7 separate regions of the Homo sapiens genome follow, and regions 1, 2, 3, 4, 5 and 6 are each reported to be linked to region 7. Evidence: microRNA targets listed by miRTarBase, many of them from high-throughput screens and not tested one by one. Region 7 holds a microRNA gene; each other region holds the end of a gene's coding sequence.

Region 1 (3,098 bases), not on the chromosome of region 7:
CAGGAAGCTCCACCTGAGGCCTGACCCAAGGCCGCATCCCCAGGGTCAGGGAAGCTGTGGGGCAGGCTGGCTTGTTACTGTGGCCCGGGGTTGGCCTTCAGGCAAACACAGGCTAAAGCTGTTATCCTGTGGCCCATCAGGACTAACCATGCATCACTGATCTTGAAATCACAGTCTCTCCTACATCCCAATGTCCTCAGCTTCTGGCTGTACTTCCATGTGCTTTAAAGAGATAGTAGTGAATTTATGATGTGCAGGCGTCCCTCCCAGCACTCGGCATGACCGCGCTTAGCTTCCATCCCCCACCCCCCCGTGCAGGCATCCCTCCCAGCACTCAGCGTGACTGTGCTCAGCCTCAGGACTCTAGCTTTGCAGGCGTCCCTCCCAGCTCAGTGAGACCAGCCCTGTGCTTTCCTGTTGCAGGTGCTAGTCCTGACAGTCTCTGTGACCCGCTCTGCACTTTGCTGTTGCAGGTGTACCTCCTTATACTGAGTGTGACCACGCTCAGCCTCTTGCTCGCCCCGGTGCTGTGGAGAGCTGCAATCACGAGGTGTGTGCCCAGACCGGAGAGACGGTCCAGCCTCTGATGGCTCGGAGATGATGGACCGTGGAAGGGAAGCGTCTGTGGGGAGTGAGCGCTTAGATGGCCAGCAGCTGCTCCTTCTGGGAAGCTCGCACCTTGGCAACAGAACAGCCCTCTAGCAGAGCGTCAGTGCAGTCGTGTTATCCCGGCTTTTACAGAATATTCTTGTCCTATTTTAGAATTTTCCGGAGTAGTTTATTTGCAGTCTGTTGATTATGTGCAGTAGACCCGGGACACTGCGTTTTACCGATCACCTTGAATGTGGTGCCTGGATGTGCCTTTTTTTTTTTTCCCTGAAATTATTATTAATTTTCTATTGTGAGTTCATCAGTTCATAGTTTTTTTAGTAAAGAAGCAAAATTAAAAGGCTTTTAAAAATGTACAACTTCAGAATTATAATCTGTTAGTCAAATATTTGTTATTAAACATTTCTGTAATATGAAGTTGTAATCCTGGCCGTGAGCTTGGAAGCTTACTTTTGATTCTTAAAGCCTATGTTTTCTAAAATGAGACAAATACGGATGTCTATTTGCCTTTTATTGTAACTTTTAAATGAAATAATTTCATGTCAATTTCTATTAGATATATCACTTAAAATATTTGGTTTTAAATCACAAGAATATGTATTCTTTAATAAAGATAATTTATGATCATGGTATAATTAATTGAAATTTATTAAAATCTGTTTTTATTAATTTTTTTGTATTGAGCTTATCTTTATACAAAATTCCAGCCAATTTTTTTTTTTACTAAGATGATTTCTATATTAACATGCTATTCTCCAAGACACCAAATTAATGCAGTGTTAATTGATAAGTTCTAACTTTTGATATTTAAATATCTATTTTGGTGATTATGTGCCCCAGTTTAGAAAACCACACAGGTGAGGATCTGAGCCTCACAAGGACTTCCCTAAGAGGCATTGTGCTCATCTGTTTTGTGCTGCTGTAATAGAATGCCTGAAACTGGGTCATTTACAAAGAACACAAACTTATCTCTCGAAATTCTGGAGGCTGGGGACAACAAGATGGAGGTGCTGGCAGGTCAGGCCTGCTCTCTGCTTCCGGGATGGTGCCTGGAACGCTGGGTCCTCCAGAGGGAGGAAGGCTGGGTGCTAACGTGGTAGAAGAGCAGGAGAGCCAACCACTCCCCAGTCCCCTTTGTGTGGCAGCATTGATTCACGAGGGCAGATTCCTCCTGACCTAAACACCTCCCTGCAGGCCTCACCTCCCAACGCTTGCAGTGCACATCGAGGGGACAGAAGCATTTGAACCGTAGCAGGTACCGTATTAGGCTTTTTCAACTGCATGAATTTTTTTAATTGACAGATAAAAGTCAACATATTTATTGTGTACAACATAGCAAGTACTTTAAGCCAGGGTTTTCGTATACCTGTCAGCTTTAAGAGCCTAACAATTTGACCAAAATACTTGAGATAGAGAAGGTAAAAATGGCAGGTGTAATTATGTATTGCACACATAAATTATCGATTGCAGTAGTATAAATTAAAACATTTTGAAGTAAGTTGTATCTAGTCTGAAGCAGATTAATGGAGAAATGATACCAACATGTTTATGTTTAGAAAATATCTTTGGTTTTTCATTTCTAAATGAGCCCAAATGGTCTAGTGCCGTTTTCTCCTCCACTCGTGATGATATATGAGATGTTGCCAGGTGCATGTGAAGCGTTCTGGGTGTGGCCTGTCTGCCTGAGGCTGACTGGCCTATCACTGTGTCCCTGTGCTGCTTTGCCACGCCTGTGACACTCCATCTTCCCTGTGCACGCGCCTTCTCCCCATCCAGGCATTCAGGATACAGTGGAGTCTCTGCAACAGGGTGACTTTTTTTTTGTCTCCAACACCTGTGACCATCTTTTTAATTTTGTTAAACTGAAGGAAACCGACTTGATGAGAGTAACATCAAACTCCCCCCAAAACACGAAATTAGCCTCTCTCTGCAAGATGAAATAAGAAGTGCCCTGAATGACGAGAGAAAGCATGCTAGGGTCTCTGCCTAACTGATCACTCAGGTAAGATCCTAACTGCCCAGGAACGGTGTCCTCAAAGCCCCAGCTGGGCCCACCTGCCCCACTCCAGCCACAGGACCTGGCTCTGTGAACCCGTCACTCCCGTTTTCACCCCCACCTCTCTGCTAGTGACTTCCTCATCTGTGACCTGCCCGTTTGTCCCATGCTGACCCAGCAGAACCCTTTCTTGACCTCATGACTCCTCTTTCATCCAGACCTTCCAGAAAGCTTCACCCTCCCCATCCCATCCCCATCATGTCTGCCCCTGTCATCCAGATGGGGGTCTCCGAGCCACCGAGCCCCTGGTAGCCACATTGCCCCCACCCTGCTCTCAGCATTTCCCCAGTGTGTAGCATGTCACTAGAAAGAAGTGGGAGGACGGACTCATGGTGAGTCTTGTGGGGACATGTTTGCTGGAGGCTAACCAGCCTGATCATGACATCTTCATCTTAAATTTGAAAATTGTCATCAGGTTACGGTGAAATCCTAC
Region 2 (3,098 bases), not on the chromosome of region 7:
ACCATGCCTGGCTAATTTTTTTTAATTTTTTTGTAGACAGGTTCTCGATATGTTGCCCAGGCTGGTCTTGAACTTGGCCTTATTTCCTTCTATCTATGATCAGTCTAGTTAGATCACTTGATTGACACAGACCTATTCAAAGAATATAATTATGAACAAAGGAAAAAATAAAGCTTATGTAACCCATATTAAGCAAAATTGTTGCCACTCTAAATTTTAAAAATCACATGGAAATGAAACATATGAAAAACTATCAGTATGTATGGTGTAAGAGTTAGCCAGATCGGCACTTTTATTCACCAACTTAGTTAATTTAAGGCATTTGACATGTTTCACTGAGATCACTTAATGATTACAGAATTGCCAAGCAAATTAACATCGGCCATGCATCTTATAAATTGCAGATGAATTTATATAACCAAACTAATATACTGCTTAACAGTTTTGATTATTTTAGTGTATTTTTTTAAAACTTTGCTCAAAGCTTAGGGAAAAATATTGTGAAGAATGCAGGGCCAGTCATTAAGCCTATTTTATGTACTGGGAGACTGTTGGTGAATTTTAGGGTCAAAAAATGTTAAACAGCACAGCCATTAGAGACAGTGAAAGATTTTATTTTTTTTTTTACTTTCATCCAAACACACCCTTTTCTGAAAAACATAAAAGCATGCACATCGACGGCATTCTTATAAAGAAAAATTAATAACTAAGCTGTAAATCAGTAATAATACAAACAAAAGTTTAAATGATATGTGAAAAGACTTACAGGTAGGTATACGGCTCTTAATTTTAGAAAATAATTCAAGTCAGTATCAATACAGGTTAAGGAGAAGCTTCTAATTTTCCAAACATTTTGATACAAAATTTTTTTCAACGACTGTATTTTATAGACCTTTTGTGAGAAGATTAGTATAGTTCTATGAAACCTAACATTCAAGTGATCTTATGCAGGTCAGGCTACCTTGTTAAAATGAGTTAGAATCCACATAATTCCAACAGTATTGCCTCTCAAAGTTCAAATTTAGAACATACCCATTATATTCAAAATATATTAAATCCCTGTACTTAACAAAGACATGGAATTGATCTAAATTTTACTTTACAGGTAAGAGAAAATTACAATTCAGCATGAGGAAATTTTCATAAGTTTTACCCATGCCCCGATTATTAGGCCAACTATATCCTGAGTGTCCATGGATGTGTGCATACATTCTAATGTACACAAACCAATTCACACCACACGACTCTTCAAAGATGATGCTTGAAAGAGTTTATTCTCTGGCATGGGAGAAGCAGTGTAACACAGTCACTTAATTTTCCCTTAATCATTATTTCTTTCATTTTGCTTATCATGATCCAACTGGTATGTTTAATGTGGGCCACTGATATATTTCTGCAGCAAAAATCCAGTAGCAGTAAGCAGAAATGTCAACTTAAAGGACTATGAGGAAATCGAAGTTTAAATTATAACACAAAAATAGAACAGTTCACACTGAAAGGTCTTCTCCCATGGGATATATTGTTCCATGGCTAAAAATCGTGATCTGGTTCCTGGAACACAGCTCTTGCTCTAAGGCGATACATATTAATGTGTAGCTCCACTAAACCTAATGGGAAATAAACAAATTCGTTCAGTCATGACAAATTAAGTCTGTATTTCACTGGCTTGAGAAGGTGAACTTCTTGACACAGACAAATGCAAAATGCCTCTGCAGTAGCTGGTGAAGCCCACTCACAAGGGCTTAAAGAGTTCAACTCTGAAAGTGGGCAGCACAGGCTGGCTCTGCATTTCTTCCTAGCAAGTCTGCGTGCAAGCCGCTGAGCAGCACCACTGACGGGATCCAAGGGAAGGACCAGAGCCCAGTGGGAATCCACCACACTACAGAAACGCGACTTCTGAATGAATATTCTGTGAAATCAAAGAGAAGCAGGCAAAAGGCACACGCTAGTAAATCTAGGCAGAATGTCTGCAGGCTCTCATCACCTTAAAAATCTTGTGAACTTGGGGTCCAACCAAGGTTCACACCGACTCTTTTGATATTAAAAAAACAAAACAAAACAGAAAACCTTAACGTTTTCAAGCACTTATGGCACAGACAAAGGGAAGTACTAATAGTGTAGCTTAAATCTTCAAAAAGCTGGGAAATTTAAAGTTCTGCTATAATGAATCAGAGTCACAATTTTAAACTTCGTTCTCATATTTTATACCATTTTCTGTGTGTACAGGGTGTGCAAATTAAGCAATTTCAATAAATATTAGAAATTTATTTTGCAAATATAAAATGAGTAAAATCAGCTAATAACGCAATACAATAAAATCATGTGCTAAACAGAGCTTTTTCCCCATGAACACTTTTTACCCTTTCCTTTGAACATCCTGACACTTCCTAAATACAATTTATTTCACTGACTTGTAGAAATAAGCAAAAGATGAAATATTAACTAGCTGCAAGATACTAAATACTTTAGTAATAAGAGCTTGGAGCTGTCAAGTTGTAATAAATTGAAAATAACAGAAAAAGTGAAATACGCTGCAAATTAATGCTCAAAAATGCAGCCATCTGACTTGCAAAATACACAATCCTCCCAGCCTTCTCAAGTTGTCATTAGTTCATAGGAAATGGACAGAGCAGGAGAAACTCCATTTAGCTTTTACCCTTCCAGCAGCCCCGATGCTAAAGTTGTACAACCAGGTATGTTTGCCCAAGACCATTGCATATCAGCTTTCGTCACAAATTCTATTATCCAATCTTCAATCAACAAGGCTTTATTTACACTCCTTAATAAATTCAGGAAACAATTTGATGTCATGTGCAGCCGCCAAAAATAGACAATGTAGCACATCCCACTGTCTGGAGACAGCTACTTGTCTATGCTTTAATAGTAACCCACAGGCAGCCAAGTAGGGTTCCATATATCCAGGTGTTCACATACAGCTTCCTTCCAGCATCGGTCATAAGCATGCCTGCAGTCAAACCACTTAAGATCAACATTGATGGTAAAGTCTTCTTGATACTTAATTTGGAATTAACACTTTTCCCAGGAAATCTTTTTCTTCTTTCTGGATCTGGTGACTCATAAAATTCTATAAGCATCCT
Region 3 (3,098 bases), not on the chromosome of region 7:
AGGAGCTCGAGAACAGCCTGGGCAACATGGTGAAAGCCCGTCTCTACCAAAAATACAAAAATTCGCCAGGCACACGCCTGTAATCCCAGCTACTTGGGAGGCTGGGGCAGGAGGATCCCTTGAACCCGGGAGGTAGAGGCTGCAGTGAGCCGAGATTGCGCCATTGCACTCCAGCCTGGGCAACAAGAGTGAAACTCCATCTCAAAAAACAAAACAAGAATTAGCTACATATGATGGTACAGTCCTGTAGTCCCAGTTACACGGAGGCAGGGGATCACTTGAACCCAGGAGGTGGAGGTTGCCATGAGCCGAGATCAGGCCACTGCACTCCAGCCTGGGTGACAGACTGAGACCCTGTCTCAAAAAAATAGAAAATAAAAAAAGATAATAGGTACATGGGTGATTGTTTTCTCACAAGGTCACACTATGCATTAGTACAAAGATTCAGTTGTCTTGATCAAGGTGCCTTGGAATCCAGAAAAAGAAAACTCATTATACTCATTATATACTTTAAAATGAATTTTTTAGCTTAAAATAGCAGCAGAAAGTATATTTAAAAAAAAATCTCGGATGGGGGAACTTTACCATATGTCAAGCTGAGCTGTTGTACTTTGCTGTGTGCATTTGCTATCAGTCTTATTCAAAAAATAAGCTGAGATCCCCATTTTTAGTCCTTACAAAAGTGATTCATGTGTTAAAATGGGAATGTCAGAAATGTGGAAGAAGATACATGTTTAAGATCTCTTGCTGGGGGGAGGAAAGGCGTTTCTAAATAGGCTACAAAGGCCGGGCACGGTGACTCATGCTTGTAATGCCAGCACTTTGGGAGGATCACTTGAGGTCAGGAGTTCAAGACCATCCTGGCCAACATGGCAAAACCCTGTCTCTACTAAATTAACAAAAATTGGCCAGATGTACTGGCAGGCGCCTGTAATCCCAGCTACTCAATCCCTGCTACTTGGGAGGCTGAGGCAGGAGAATTGCTTAAACCCGGGAGGCGGAGGTTGTGGTGAGCAGAGATCACACCACTGCACTCCAGCCTGGGCGACAGAGTGAGAATCCGTCTCAAAAATAAACAGGCTACAAAAAACTAAGAGTGACAAATATAAATTGACTTCCTAAAAATGGGAGGTCTCTGTATGGCACAGACATGATAAGCCAGGATGACTGAGCAGGGGCAGTCATCCCAAATGCCCAGGGAGCTCCCAGCAAAGACAGTCATGTGGCCATCACAGAGAAACGGTACATCCAGTGGCCAAAGGACACACAGAAGTGTTATGTCACTATTAAAAAATGCTGGCCAGGCATGGTGGCTCACACCTATAATCCCAGCACTTTGGGAGGCCGAGGCAGGCGGATAACCTGAGGTCGGGAGTTTGAGACCACCCTGACCAACATGGAGAAACCCCGTCTCTACTAAAAATACAAAATTAGTTGGGTGTGATGGCGCATGCCTGTAATCCCAGCTACTTGGGAGGCTGAGGCAGGAAAATCACTTGAACCTGGGAGGCGGAGGTTGCAGTGAGCAGAGATCGTGCCACCGCACTCCAGCCTGGGCAACAAGAACGAAACTGTCTCAAAAAAAAAAAAAAAAAAGCTAATGGGAGGCTGGGTGCAGTGGATCACACCTGTAACCCAGCACTTTGGGAGGTCCAGGTGGGCGGATCATGTCAGGATTTCAAGACCAGCCTGGCCAACATGGTGAAACATCGTCTCTACTAAAAATACAAAAATTAGCTGGGCGTGGTGATGGGCGCCTACAATCCCAGCTACTCGGGAGGCTGAGGCAGAATTTCTTGAACCCAGGAGGCAGAGGCTGCATTGAACGGAGACTGCCCCACTGCACTACAGCCTGAGCAACAGAGCAAGACTGTCTCAAAAAAAAAAAAAAATTCTTTGGAAAGAAAAAAAACCCAACTAAAGAGGTTTTGCTTGGGGATGGGGTGGCCGGGGCTCCAAGGGCAGCTCAGTGGTGACTTCTCTCTCCTTATTCCACCAGTTGCAGCACAGAGCTCTGCCTCATGGTCACAGGATGGCTGCTCCACTGCCAGGCATCACAACCCACTTCAGACCAAAGAAGGCCTACCAGCCACGGGGAAGGCCAGCCAAGACTTCCTTTAAAAGGCTTTCCTGGAAGCTACACTAGCAAGTTCCATTTGCATGTCATGGGGATCAACTCACGTGACTCAGTTCTGAACAAACACAGACAGACACACGGAGTGTCTAGCTTCAAACGTGCTAGCTTCAAACTCCACGTGGGTCGCCTTCAGCATGGAAGAGCTTGTTCCTGTCTGACCTCAGCCAGAAGTCCCGTGCAAATCACGAATACCCACCCAGGGTGGTTTATAGGAGAGATTTATTTGAAGAAATATTACAACATATAAAAACTACATAAAGTCTTAATTTCCACTCATACAGTGGTAGATTTGATATAATGCATAATAAAAAACTTTTAAAATCCAGAATGCACAAAGTACTGCACAATTTGATCACTAAATCATTAGTTGATAAGCGAACCTCACACAACAGCTTCATGTCAGCCAAGGCCACAAACACCATGTACCACACATGTGAACGGACAGATTGACATGTTAAAAACACAACATCAGTGCATGTTGGGGATTCCTGGTGCCAGAAACAGGGGTGACGGGAGGGCAGAACTAGTCCTTAGCAGCTTCCTCCTCCTTTATTTTAGCTGAAGGGAAATAAAAGGAAAAGTCACTCTGGGGAACACGCCCGGTGTCACGCCACTTGACAGGCGAGTAACAGACATGGACCATCAGGAAACATTAACGTACTGATGTTAACAGCTGACCCAATAAGTGGCAGAGTGCTAAGGGAACGTTCACGGAGACTGAACACTCCTCAAACGGTCCCCAGAGGGTTCTAGACCCAGAGGCTCAAGTGAGCAGCTGAGGCAGGTGCCTGCTGAGCCAAATTCACCGAGCAGGAGTGAGGGAAACGGCCCCAGGGCCAGCCCAGCAGCCAACCTGACCAAAGGCCTGCTGTGTGCAGCACGCCTGCTCTAAGCACTTGACACGTGCAACTCACTCAATCCTCACAGCAGCCCCTTGAGAAAGATGGGGCCACGAACGTGG
Region 4 (3,098 bases), not on the chromosome of region 7:
AAAAAAAAAAATTTAGCCAGGCATGGTATGGTGGCATGTCCCAGCTACTTGGGAGGCTGAGGTGGGAGGATTGGTTGAGCCCAGGAGACTGAGGCTGTAGTGAGCTGTGATCTCACCACAGCACTACAGCCTGGGTGACAGAGCGAGACCTTGCCTTTAAAAAAAAAAAAAAAAAAGACAACAAACTGCTTCCAGAGAATTAGTGAAAGCAAATATTAAAATTCTCTGGGAGATGAAAGGACTGATGGAAGCCAAGTATCTAAGATGCTACTACCATTTTCTACAAAGAAATGTCTGGGTAAAACAGCAGCTGCTCCACCTTTTCTGAATGGATGGCTTCATTAGCTGAAAGAAAGGAAACATTAGCTGACAGAAAAGAACTAAATTGTTCAGAAAAAGTAGTGTTAGCTACCAAGATATTGTACTATTAAAAAAAAAGATATTATACTATAACTAACTTTCTCCTGGATGTTTAGACAAGAACTTTGTGAATAAAGTTAGAAAAATACTAACATTTAAGTACAAGGTACTATTCATAATATTTAGAAATGTTTTAATATAGTTTAAGTTTCCTATTTTTGTATATTTTATTAATATTTAAAATATTTTATACTAAACAAAAGAGATTTTTGCCATCTCCTATTGAAATAAGGCAATTTACAGGGAAGGGAGTTTCAATACAAACCATCACCTTCTATATCAATTTAGTATTCTTCAAGGTGTTTGAAATTCATTATTATCTCAGGGGATATTGTTGATCATTGTTAACTTAGTCTTATTATAAAGTATAAGAAATAAGATCTGAAAAACTTAATAGAATTTCATTTTAATAAGTATATTTAAAGTTTATCGCTTCCAAAAAACAGCACTTTAATTACATTCAAGTTGTATTCATTTTAAATACCAACAAACCCATCATTTACATATAGAGCTAGATATTACAAAACAGATGGAAATTTAAACAAGTTTTTTTTTTAAGTCCTTCCAAATTTAGAACATTGTGAACTATTAAGTACATGCCTAAAAAATGTACACATTATCAGGGAAACACAAGTTGCTCTAATAGGAAAAGAGCCATAATACACATACAGTGGAATATAATTCAAATAGGTTCAATTTACAGGTATGTCTTAAAGTACAAGAAAACCCCAAAGCTAATAACTAGAACTATAGGCAAAATCATAGCTGACTTTCTAAACTAATGCACCACTATATAATGCTTTCCCAGAGAAAGTAGAAGGTTCTCAAGATTTTATGTTGACCCATGATTTTTCACGTGTTCTCAAATATAAAACCAGAGTTTTCTTTTTGTCTTTAATTTACACTCATGTTTGCCTGTTTGCTTTTATAAGAATAACTAAAATGTATCATGAGAAGTGCCATCAAACCTGTCTATTTAGAGCTCAGTAACCAAGACATTTCTTTCATTTTTCCCTGTTGCTCTATTTTCCCTTCAAAAAGTCTCTAAGGAAATTTTATAAACAGTGGTGGTAAAAAGATAATTCTGAGATGGCAAAGAAATATGAGACTTGGCACAAGCACGGATTTACAAAAAAAAAATTATCCCCCATTTATTAAACCATATATGCGAAAAAGGAAAATCATATCTGAAAACATAAGCCAGTGAAAACATACTGAAAAAAAATGGAAGGCGGCACTTAGAATTGTGGCGCTTGCAGGCTTTAGTTTGGAAGACGCACAGCAAGCAAGCTACCAGTTGAGAATTTTTAAAAACTTGTATGAACTTGTTTAAATTTTGAACTTGTTTCAATCAAGTTGTAGCCAAAACAAAAAGGTCATAATTACTGTGCTCATATAAGAGATGTGACGAGGGAAGGAGGGAGGGAGAAATGCAGGAAAGGAGCGGGGAGAGGAGGAAGGGAGGAAGAGAGGGAGGAAAGAGTAAGGTACACATCAGGTTAAAAGGGGCAGAATTAGGAATAAAACTAAGCACTTAATCTAATCTGATCAGGAAGAAACTTTGCCCTTTATTCAGATTTTATTGCATTTCATAATCACAGAAAAAGAACATCCAACTTTATTCTTAAATGTGTCTCAAGTTAAAAATGGCAGAATGAATAGCCCTTAGTTAGCACACACTATTTTTAAAAGGGACACTTGTAGAATTTCACTGGTTTTTTGTTGTTGTCCTTGTTGTTGTTTTCCCCGCTTCTTTTCATAGGTGTTGACGTATTTGTTTTCTAATGATAATCTTAAGAGTTGACTCTTCTAAAATGGTGCTCAGATGTTCTGATATATTCAGGCCTTTCTTAAACAACTTACTCTGCATTAAAAAGTCATCAATAAGAACTGTAATTCAGTGTTTTTAAAAATGAAATGTTTAACTTCAAATTGTTTGTTTAAAATAAACTGCTATTGTGCCAAATAATGAAACTACTATTTTATTCATTACAAACATCATATAATCATTCTCTATAATCACTATAAAAATTTAAATGCTTCCTTTCTCCTGTATATGAAGATGGTAGTTCTAAAGCAACACTCTAAAAGTGTTAAAAAGCCCATTCGTAACACACACCCCACCTCAGTTTTTGAAAGTCAGTGCATTCAGTGGTTATAAATAGGCATGATGTTCTTCCACAGCTAAGAGTTCTAGAAGAAAGGGGAAAAAAAAAGATAAATAATCTGAAAGGTTCCTAATGATCACAAATACTGCCAATACTCAAAGTCAAGATGGTATAACCTGAGTGTCAATCAGTTGTGTTTTTTTCTCCCAAGGGAAGACGTTCCCATAACTGGAGCAACTGTTCACCAACCAGAGGTTCTAGTTCCTAGATAAATCAGAAGTCAAAATAAACATAAAAAGAACTGGAGTGAAAATTTTTAATGACCAAAACCTACACTGATAAAAATGTAAGAAAATCACTTTAAATTTCATTTTCCTACCAGCGTATGCTAAAATCATCTGGTATGAATTGTTCTAATTCTTTGCTTTAAGGTTTATGGAGTTGACTTCCAGATTTAAGATTACAGTTAATCTGCAAAATCTCTCAACTTTTGTGACAAAATGGCAACAGATTCCCATGGAGTCCTGGAACTGTTTCTACCTAAAAATAATGGATTTTGTTTTTCATAGA
Region 5 (3,000 bases), not on the chromosome of region 7:
AATCTCAGAAGGTTTAGTATACTCATTGTTAGCCATGTTTAGAATTGAATATTTATATTTTAAAATTATTTATTTTAATTCTTTGTTTTAAATAGTCCTGATAAACCTGTGAGTGTGAAAATAAGTTTTGAAGATGAACCAAGAAAGAAATACGTGGATGCTGAAACTTCATTATAGAATTGAACCAAGAGGCATTATACATATAGATATATACATATGTAATGTGTGCGTATCATGTCACTATATATAAGAATATTGTATGTCATGCTGTTTATGTGTGACTACCGGGTTTTTAAAAGTAGTGTCTGGAGTTTGTAATGAGCACCGTGGAGACTATGTATTTAATGAAATGCTCTCTTTGAAGTGAGGTACATGGTTCTTAACTATTCAAATATTTATTCTGTTAGAAAAAAAAATTTTCTGTTTTGCAATAGAAGGATGTGGAGAAATGCTTTCAGTCTACTTTTCTTAAATCTCTGTTCATCAGTGGCAATTCGTAAAAACCTTAAGTGATACTTTGTTTATATGTTTATAATTTTTAGGTGTTTCCTGAAATTTTCACATATTATTTCACTTTTGTTAGTGCTTTATGGGAAGAATAGGGAGTCTATACCAGTGCTGTGGGAAAAATGGTAACATTTCAGGGCTTCTCTATTTGTGTTTCATTTCTGTAGATGTCCATCGTGTTTCACTAACTGGCGTTTTCTTAGCCATAGAGATGACTGTAGAACAATAGAAACTTTAATAATGATAGTTTTTAACTTTTATGTTTAAATTTTTTTTAAATCTTAAAACCTTCATATCTAGGTATCCATTGTGACAGACAAGTAAAATTGCAGGTGATTTGATAATTAAGCACCCATACCATTTATAACTTCTGAATTTAAAAAGTTATACAATGCCAGTTTGCAATAGTTGATTTTGATGCCTTTGTAGAATATTTTTTCTGAATCCTTATGCTCTTTTAAAGCCAATGATTCCCACTCTGTTCTCTGCCTTGTCTCTCTTTGTCTTAAAATGCTTTAGTTTCCATCAGGTTCAAGTTCTTGACTATTATTCTCTTATAAGTAGTAGGCGTAAATAATCAGGAGTTAGAATTCTCTCAGAAGGGTCTATGATCAGTATTACTTTATTAAGAATTACCTTTCATTTTCTCTTTATGTTATTCTTTCACTTTTGTAGATTACATTTAATAGCTTGTTACCTGTGATTTTATTTTAAAATATTTATTTTGATATGATGCTTAAATATTATATAAACATTTGGAAAAGTAACAAATAGAGTAAATTGTTAATGTAAATAGTTGGTGCTTACTTTCATTTATGTTTATTATCTTAAAGCAATTGATAGATTTTACATCTTTGATATAAAGCACTGCCATATTTATATTTTAAAAGGAAATTAGACATTTTATATGTAGCTCAGATTAATGACATTTTTATTTTGTGTATTAGTTTTTGCTTTTCTGAGCTTTTTAAAGTCTAACAAATCTTTTTAGTCATCTTTTATATACTTTTAGTTCCACATGAAATAAATGTTGTTAAGCCTGTAGGACTGGATGAATGGGGTTGTGAAACTGATTTGACAAGAGAATAATTTACAAAAATCAAATGAGTATTGAGAAGCCACAGAAATATCAAAAATGGTGACATCACTATTAGGATGAAAATTTTATGAAATTCCAATGCTCCCTTTAACCATATAATTAAATTACAAAGGTATACATAATTAATCTAATAAAGGATCATGAGGAATGCCAAAAGCTGAAATTTTAGCAAGTCTGGTGTTTTAAATTCATTATAAACTATTTATTAACTAATGTAATGTCCTCCTCTAAGACCATATTGTAAGAGTCTTGTTAAAATGATGGATTCAACTTCTGCCTCGGATGAGAGGTTGGAAATGTAGCTGCTTTTCTTTAGAAAATATGTAGCTGTCATCATTTGGTACTGCCTAAAAAGAGTTAGACTCTATTGGCAATTGATAGAGTATTACCCACGGTGCTTATTATTGTTTATGAGCTTCCATTGTAATGATTCCTTTTTATTTGTAGCAGCATAATTATTTCCAAAGACCCCAGTATTTGCTGCTATTTTTAAAACTCCCCTGATGTACCTGAACAAGAGGATTTCCTCACATCATTTCCTTGTGTCTGGACATCAGGGGTAACAACTGTACTTACTTTACAGGAAGAAATTTTAAAACTGAAAACTACCTGGGATCATAGTGTTTCTGTGATTTTATTTAATTGTGTATAGTAATTATCCAGTGCCAGAAAAACCGTCACTTGCAAAATACTTTGCACTCAAAATGTTTTTACAATGCTTCTAAATGTTACTGGTTTCTGCTTTCTTTTGACTACTTGACTGACAAAATGATCTGACTACTCCATTTAAGAGCAAAGGTAACTCATGTTTAGGTAATTAACTGCTTGTTTTAAGTGATTATATTTCTTCCACTGTTTTTGAAAAATAATCAAAGATAGCATTCATTGAGAGACAGTGACAGATATAATTTACTACATATATTGATTTTTAAATAAAGTTGCCTTAAATAAGTGTATGTAAGCAGTAGTAGTTGCTATGTACTGATTTACCTCAAGGTGCAAAATAATTAAACCTGTACATATTCCATTTACAAAATAAATTCAGCCCTGCACTTTCTTTAGATGCCTTGATTTCCAGAATGGAGCTTAGTGCTACTGAATACCCTGGCCACAGAGCCACCTCAGGATATTCTTTTCTCCACCCTAGTTTATTTATTTATAGATATCTGTTTACAAAGTCTGTAGTAAATCCTGATGCTGACCATCTGAAATGTACTTTTTTTCTGAATGCTGTTTCAATCTAAAATAGCAGCTTTTGAGAAAACAATGATGTAAATTCCTTATGATAAAAGGATGATTCTATATATTCTTTAATGATATTAAATATGCCGAAGCCAAGCACACAGTCTTTCTAAAGTGTGTGTATGTTTGTGTGAATGTGAATGATACTGATC
Region 6 (3,098 bases), not on the chromosome of region 7:
TTCTAGCTGCTTAGGGCTGAGGTGCTGGTGTCTGCATTTTCTGTGGCTCTGAGTCCCTATCTCAGTCTCTGCCTCTATGTTTCTCTCTCTCACTTCTCAAATCACAGCAGCAGTCACTCTAGGGGCTGGCACTCAATCTCTCCAAGGCCACTGGTGCCTGGCCTGGAGACCACCTTAGGGCTGGACCTGCCGGGCCAAGTGGGATCTGGATGTAGCCCCTGCCCTGGATTCCCTCTCCAAGTGAAATCTTGAGGGGGAAGAGGAAAGCTTGGGACGGGCCTGAGAATAAGCAAGTGGGGAAAGGAGGGTGGGCGTGTAGAGGGGTGGGACAGAGGGCCAAGACCACGGCGAGGGGTTTGGGGACAGACGACCCGTGGGAAGGGTGTTGTGGCACTGAGCCACCAGCAACCAGTTCTGAGGAGGCCTGGGTCATTTCACAGTCTTGCCAGTGCCCCAGCTGACCCACTCACCCATCTTAGCCCACCCCACTGACAAGGTAGACCCCAGGATTCCAGATATGTTGTTACTGCTGGTTCTTGTCTAAATAGGTTCCCCTGGTTTTGAGCATTTGCCAAATTCCCTATCTCTCTAGAAGGGGCCCAGACCTGTCACTCCACACATGGGAGAGCCCTGCGGCACTGGCTTGCACTTGGTAAAGGATGTGACTGGAAACTTGACTGGGTCACCCCAGCTAGTCAGCCAACCAGCCAATTAGTCAGGCAATCAGCTAGTCAGTTGCTCAATGGGCTCCCCAAGCAACAGCTGGTCAGTTAGGCAGTTACCAAGATAGTTGGTTGGTTAGTCATTCACCCAGCCAGCTGGTCAGCCAGTCAGTCAGAGTCAGTCAGTTAGCTGGTTAACTGGTCAGCTAGAGGCTGGTCAGTTAGAGACAGCTGGCCAGGGTCAGTCCGTGAGTCAGCCCTGAAGCCAGTCAGTCAACATTTATTGCATGTTTGGCAAATGTGGAGAGGCCCTCTCTTAGTAGAACCCAGGATGGAAAAAGAAACACAAAAAAAAGTGGAAGACAGTCCCTGCCCTCAAGGGGCTTACAATCTTAGGGATGTGGAATGTACAATACATATAAAATAAGATTTTAAAAAATATGAAAACAACATCCAAATAAGTGCAAATTGATATACTATTAGCCAAATACAAAAGAGCAGGAGGAGCATGACTGAAAAGAGCAGTCAGAAGGTTGTGGAGAAGCCAGGAAGGCTTCCTGATGGGCTGGCTGTGGGCTTGGGTGGGAGGGGGAAGAGGTGGGCCAGCTGGGGTTGGCGGGGGGCAGGGGTGAGGAACAATAGGGTCACAGCTACATCAACAACATGGGCAAAGACAACAGCAGGCACTCATCAATGTGCAGGAGGCACAACTGGGAGGGCTACGGAGATGACAGAATTAGGATTTCACACAACTTCAGTAGGTTCAGGTGATGGGCAGAAACCAACAAGGTGGCTTTAACAAAGGTGAACATAAACTGCACTTTGGTTAAAAAAGTTAAGTTGTCCAAGTACAGGGTAGAGATGGTCTGGCTTGACAGAAGTTTATGGGAAATGGAACTAGGGGTTTTAATAGACCACAGGCTCAACATATGACAACAGTATGATGCAGTTGTTAAGAAAAAAACTAATGCAATCTTAATCTGCACAAATAGAAGAATACTGTCCATATCAAGGAAGGTAACAGTCCCACTGTACTCTCTCTGAGCTGGTCAGACAACATCTGGAGTACTGTGTCCGGGGCTGGGCGTCACATTTTCAGAGGGACATTGACAAACGAGTGTGTCCAGGATGGTGAGGGGTCTGAAAACCATATCATATAAGGAACGTTTGAGGGACTTGGCCATACTTAGCTTAGAGAATTCTCAAAGGGGACATGGATACCTGACTTGAAATATCTGAGGGTTTTCATGAGAACAGGAGGGAGGAGCAGTATGGAGGGGGCAGGGAAGCCAGTTTTGCCTCGCATGAGGAAGACGTTTCTCCCAGTCTGACTGGAAGATGGCATGGGCTGTGGCTAGGCAGGGAGCTGGGCTGGATCTGGGAGTGTGTGACAGCCAGCTGGCTGGCTCCCTGTTGGGGACATGGAGAGGGGCAGTCCCTTTGGGGTGGGAACCAGGGCCAAATGACCCCTGAGAGCCCTTCCAAGACTCAGGTTCTATGTCAACATGATCCTAAAAGCAAGGAAGCAGAACTGACCTCAGCTGGGGAGGAGGGTTAACTGGTGCGGGGGTGGCGATCTGGCAAGCAGCTGCTGTCGAAGGGGCTTGGCAGCCAAGCCAAGAATATAGGGCTTGCAGTGGCTGCCACACAGAGCTACTGAAGATTCTCCAGGAGGGTAAAGACCTTATAAAGGCCACATTTGAAAAAGGGGGGTTTAGTTGCTCTGAGGTCACAGGTGGCAGCAACACTAGAAGCCCAATGCAGAGGTAATAGTCCCTGGCCTCAGCGGGGGTGGATGGAATGGAGGGGCAGGGGGATAGCTGAGGACCTGGAAAGGAGAGGGTGGCTGGACCTGGCTGGCGATGTATGGAAAGGGAACTGGAGAGAGGCATGGGAGTCAGTGTGGGGGCCTCAGGGGAATTGGTGTCACCAACAGGTGAACGTGACTGGAAAAGGGTATAGGTAAGTTTTAGGAGTGGAGATCAAAGTCAGAATCTTACCTTAGAATTCCCTCTACACTGGCAGTTCCACCTGTCTGTCATCCTGAGTCAGGGGGCTGCAGGCAGAGCACAGGGCTGGTATTAGACATCAGCAGGAGCAGGGGAATAAGGGGACTCCGTAAGTTTACCCCTAAGCCCCAGACATGCTCTAGGCCCTCTCAGATTGAAAAGACCCAGAACTGTCTAACTCTACGGAGAAATCAGGAAAAAGCCCAGATATCTGGGAAAGGACAGAGGCCCTTCTTCTCTCCCCCATCCTGTTCTGCAGCTCCATTTCCTCAGAGCAAGCAGGAGAGCCCCACCACCACGAAGAGGGGAAACAGATCCCAAGCCAGGCCCCCAGTGCCTCCCAGAGCCCCACCTCAAGCTCTCACCTGCCCTCTGGTTGCTCCAAGGGAGAATCCGCTCTCTGAGGCTCTTGATGGCTCTGAGGACA
Region 7 (3,098 bases):
AAAGCTCCTCTAATACTTCTAAAGTAGTAGAGTGTCTTTTAGTTTAAATGACTGATATATGCTGATATGCCAAGACTAGAGTAATTTTGTTCAGATTTGTTTAATTTTTAATAGAAGCATTAAGTTAATTATTTAACTTCTTAAGGGCTTGTTATATAAAAATATGCCTTATTTAAATATTCTCTTTAACAAGAAGGCTTATTTCATAATAATTTTAAATAAATCAGCAATGGACTCAAATTTCAGGTAAGTTACATTCTAGATTAGATGTTTAATAGACCTTTGATTTAAACGATTTACATGAAAGAGTTTTTCTGGTTAAGGCTGAACTTATGAGTTCGTTCTGTAGATTTTTCTTAAAATTAACTTCTTGCATCCCATCCCTTACCTCTACATTTTCCTTCCTCTCCCGTCCTCCAACAACAATTCTATTTTTTCCTGAAATGTGTAACTATATTCTAGCTTTAAAGAGCAGACCTTATTGTTTGCCATTACAATTCCTAAAGCATGGGGCTCCAAGGTGCCTTTGATCCCTGATAAAATAGCAAGTCCAAGGACACTAGAATTTTTGCTTCAAGAAAAGCAGACTTCAGTGTGGAATGCTCTCAGGTTAAAGGAGAAATGTTTAGCTTAACGTATAGGTAATGTGTTGCTTTTACAGATCAGACTGCAGCAACCCACAAAATGTAGCCTCATACAAGTTAACCAGAACTTTTGTCACTTGGGTATTTGGTAATCTTTTTTTTCTTTTTAAACTAAGTGAAACAGTTCAAATATAACTGATATTATAGATTATCTTACATTTCTTTGGATGACTTAGTCAATTCACCTTTTTTCCTTTTACAGTTGACCTCAGAAACAAACACGGGATAGGATCAATTCTAAGACATAGAAATATTCAAAATCCATTTCTCTTTAGTTGACTTCCAAGGCAGAAAGAGTAAACAGCCTTCTCCCAGCTTTCTTACTTTCCACAGCTGAGAGTGTAGGATGTTTACAGTATCTGTCGCTCAGTGCTCTCTAGGATGGGGTTGGCAGTCAGCAGCACAAGCCTCAGGAAACCCAGTACCATTTGAAGATACCATAATATGTCACAGGAAAAGATCAGAAAAGTATACTTGGGACTAAATTATGGCTCTTTTAGGAGTAGGGTTGGAAGGGTGGGTGGGGAGGCTATATGACACTTACTTAGTGCTGCCTGCTCAGTTCTTGTTTTCTTCCTGTTTTGCACATCCTAAGATATTCCTAAGGTCTCTAGCTTTGAGCTTGCACACTCACGGATTTGGTTAATTTTGGATTTTCAATATTCTATGCTTTCCCAAAAGGGTTTCAAAATATTCGCCAAACTCCTTCCTTAAACAGTACATAATCCCTTTCTGACTGTTGGGAGACATGAAATGCAGCTTCTCACTCTCTGGGCTATACAACTTTGTTTCAGCTCACTCCTGCACAGAACTGAGAATAATGGCTAAACAGAAGACCAACAGTTTAATTACTGAAAATTAGTTACCTTAATGATGGGATACACAGTAATAAATTTAATCAAATGAGCAAAAAGTAAATATGTTAGAATACAACTTTACATGCATAAAAATGGTATATTGCAAATTGCTAATATAATGCTAAAATTATTTTAAAAATTCATATTCGGACAGAAGTGAACCTACAATTAGAGGCATACACATGAATGGAGTCAGTTGCTTCCTAAAGTTATTTTCTAAGAATGACTTATTCAAATAGTTCTTGGACTTCATTTGCTAAACTGGTCTAAGGTACACAAAATACTTGGGCGAAGAAGAAAGTCATCATTACTATACATCTCAGAACAAACCTACCTGATAAGAGACTACACTGTAAACCCAGGTGGCATATAATTCCAAACTGTTACAGGATCTTACTCATTTCATTCATTCATTCATTCATTCAACAAACAATTGTGACTGCCTGCCATATATCAGCAATGTTTTAAATTCTAGGTGATGAGAAATGAAGGGTATCATCCCTACCTTCGAGAAGGACACAGCTTAATTTGCAAGACAGACACATACACCATTACTATAAGTGTTATGATGGGTCAAAAGACACTTCTGAGTTGGCTAATAGCCAGGCTGAGTCTTGAAGCCTGAATAAAATTAGCTAGGTGAAGATGGTGCTAATGGGAATTTGGAAGGGGTGGGCAGTGAAGAAGATAGTGTAGCTTAAAGTGTACCAGAAAGAACAGTCATCCAATAGAGAAAGAAAGACAAAGGTAATGTATGCTGAGGCCTTTAAGAATTCAGCAGAGGTGGAGTCAAAGATGCATGTGGGTGAAGGGTAAGGGGAGAGACACAAGGGAAAGATGGGAGTCCTTATGTGCCAGGTTAAAGGGTTTGGGCATTATCTCCAAACGATGGGTACGAGTGAAAGATAGTAAGCAGGCAAGTGGGATGACCATGTCAGTACTTTAGAGAATTTACTCTAGCTTTAAGGTGGCAGGTAAGGAAAACAGGAAAAGAATCACTGCAGTAGTGTAAGGGAGAGCATGGGAGCCTTAATTAGGGAAGAGGCAGTAAGAACACAGAGAAAATGAATATGAGAAATTATAAAGACAAGAAGAACAGCAGAATTCAGTGAGTGAGTAGCTGAGGGGAGAGGCACTGTGGAGATGGAGAAGTCATGGGTAATTCACAAGCCTGGCTTGGGCTTCATAAGGCCTTTCATGCAGGAGGGAAAGAATAGGAAGAGAAGTGGAGAAGGAAAGAGCCCTAAGAATGATAACTTGAATGGGCTGGGCTGCAAAGTTATGACCCCATGCTCATTGAATACTGAATTCTGTCACAACTGAAAGGGTGAAAACACTTGAAGAACTAAATCACACAAACCTGTTCTTTATTCTGTTTCTGCACTTCTGCTTACTCTTCTACCTGGCAAGTGCCCATACAGTCTTCAAATCCCAAATCAAGTATTCTCTCTTGTGAATCCTCTCTGGTCAGCGTCATCCCTAACACCCACACCCCTCCCCCAACCTGAGGAGGAATTGTTCATTTTTCCTTTTACCACCATTATACTGTGCCTAGGTCACATAATTGCATATGCCTAGATCACAGAACTGATACTTT

Evidence for each region. The annotated mature microRNA hsa-miR-30c-5p reads UGUAAACAUCCUACACUCUCAGC and lies in region 7 at 977-999, opposite strand. An mRNA with a match to its seed (bases 2 to 7 or 8) in the 3' UTR can be bound and repressed. Matches are read on the target gene's strand: a 7mer-m8 pairs with bases 2 to 8, a 7mer-A1 pairs with bases 2 to 7 and ends in A, and an 8mer does both.
Region 1: the mRNA of SLC9D1 is a reported target of hsa-miR-30c-5p. The part of its 3' UTR that is shown has no 7-base or 8-base seed match.
Region 2: miRTarBase lists AGPAT5 as a target of hsa-miR-30c-5p. The part of its 3' UTR that is shown has no 7-base or 8-base seed match.
Region 3: miRTarBase lists DNMT1 as a target of hsa-miR-30c-5p. The part of its 3' UTR that is shown has no 7-base or 8-base seed match.
Region 4: the mRNA of YTHDC2 is a reported target of hsa-miR-30c-5p. The part of its 3' UTR that is shown has no 7-base or 8-base seed match.
Region 5: the mRNA of SLC4A7 is a reported target of hsa-miR-30c-5p. Seed matches in the 3' UTR shown: 8mer at 2,774-2,781.
Region 6: miRTarBase lists CSF1 as a target of hsa-miR-30c-5p. The part of its 3' UTR that is shown has no 7-base or 8-base seed match.

The regions. Positions count from the first base shown.
Region 1 is chr13:113,548,952-113,552,049 of GRCh38, forward strand. SLC9D1 (solute carrier family 9 member D1) reads left to right here. Exons shown (of 13, transcript NM_017905.6): 13 at 474-1,278. The coding sequence ends at 587. Among named protein-coding and RNA genes, the nearest start is that of TFDP1, 34 kb to the right of the region's middle. RefSeq lists an enhancer at 2,783-3,098.
Region 2 is chr8:6,757,161-6,760,258 of GRCh38, reverse strand. It overlaps AGPAT5 (1-acylglycerol-3-phosphate O-acyltransferase 5), which reads right to left. Exons shown (of 8, transcript NM_018361.5): 8 at 1-3,096. The coding sequence ends at 2,871. Among named protein-coding and RNA genes, the nearest start is that of MIR4659B, 13 kb to the right of the region's middle.
Region 3 is chr19:10,131,007-10,134,104 of GRCh38, forward strand. It overlaps DNMT1 (DNA methyltransferase 1), which reads right to left. Exons shown (of 41, transcript NM_001130823.3): 41 at 2,340-2,695. The coding sequence ends at 2,661. Among named protein-coding and RNA genes, the nearest start is that of EIF3G, 13 kb to the left of the region's middle. RefSeq lists a silencer at 1,888-2,184.
Region 4 is chr5:113,592,997-113,596,094 of GRCh38, reverse strand. YTHDC2 (YTH N6-methyladenosine RNA binding protein C2) reads right to left here. Exons shown (of 30, transcript NM_022828.5): 29 at 2,705-2,792; 30 at 811-2,613. The coding sequence ends at 2,712. Among named protein-coding and RNA genes, the nearest start is that of YTHDC2, 81 kb to the right of the region's middle.
Region 5 is chr3:27,373,941-27,376,940 of GRCh38, reverse strand. It overlaps SLC4A7 (solute carrier family 4 member 7), which reads left to right. Exons shown (of 26, transcript NM_001321103.2): 26 at 96-3,000. The coding sequence ends at 177. Among named protein-coding and RNA genes, the nearest start is that of NEK10, 6.1 kb to the right of the region's middle.
Region 6 is chr1:109,924,767-109,927,864 of GRCh38, reverse strand. It overlaps CSF1 (colony stimulating factor 1), which reads right to left. Exons shown (of 9, transcript NM_000757.6): 7 at 3,037-3,089; 8 at 2,663-2,718. The coding sequence ends at 2,676. Among named protein-coding and RNA genes, the nearest start is that of CSF1, 15 kb to the right of the region's middle.
Region 7 is chr6:71,376,027-71,379,124 of GRCh38, forward strand. MIR30C2 (microRNA 30c-2) reads right to left here and starts at 1,005; the gene lies at 934-1,005.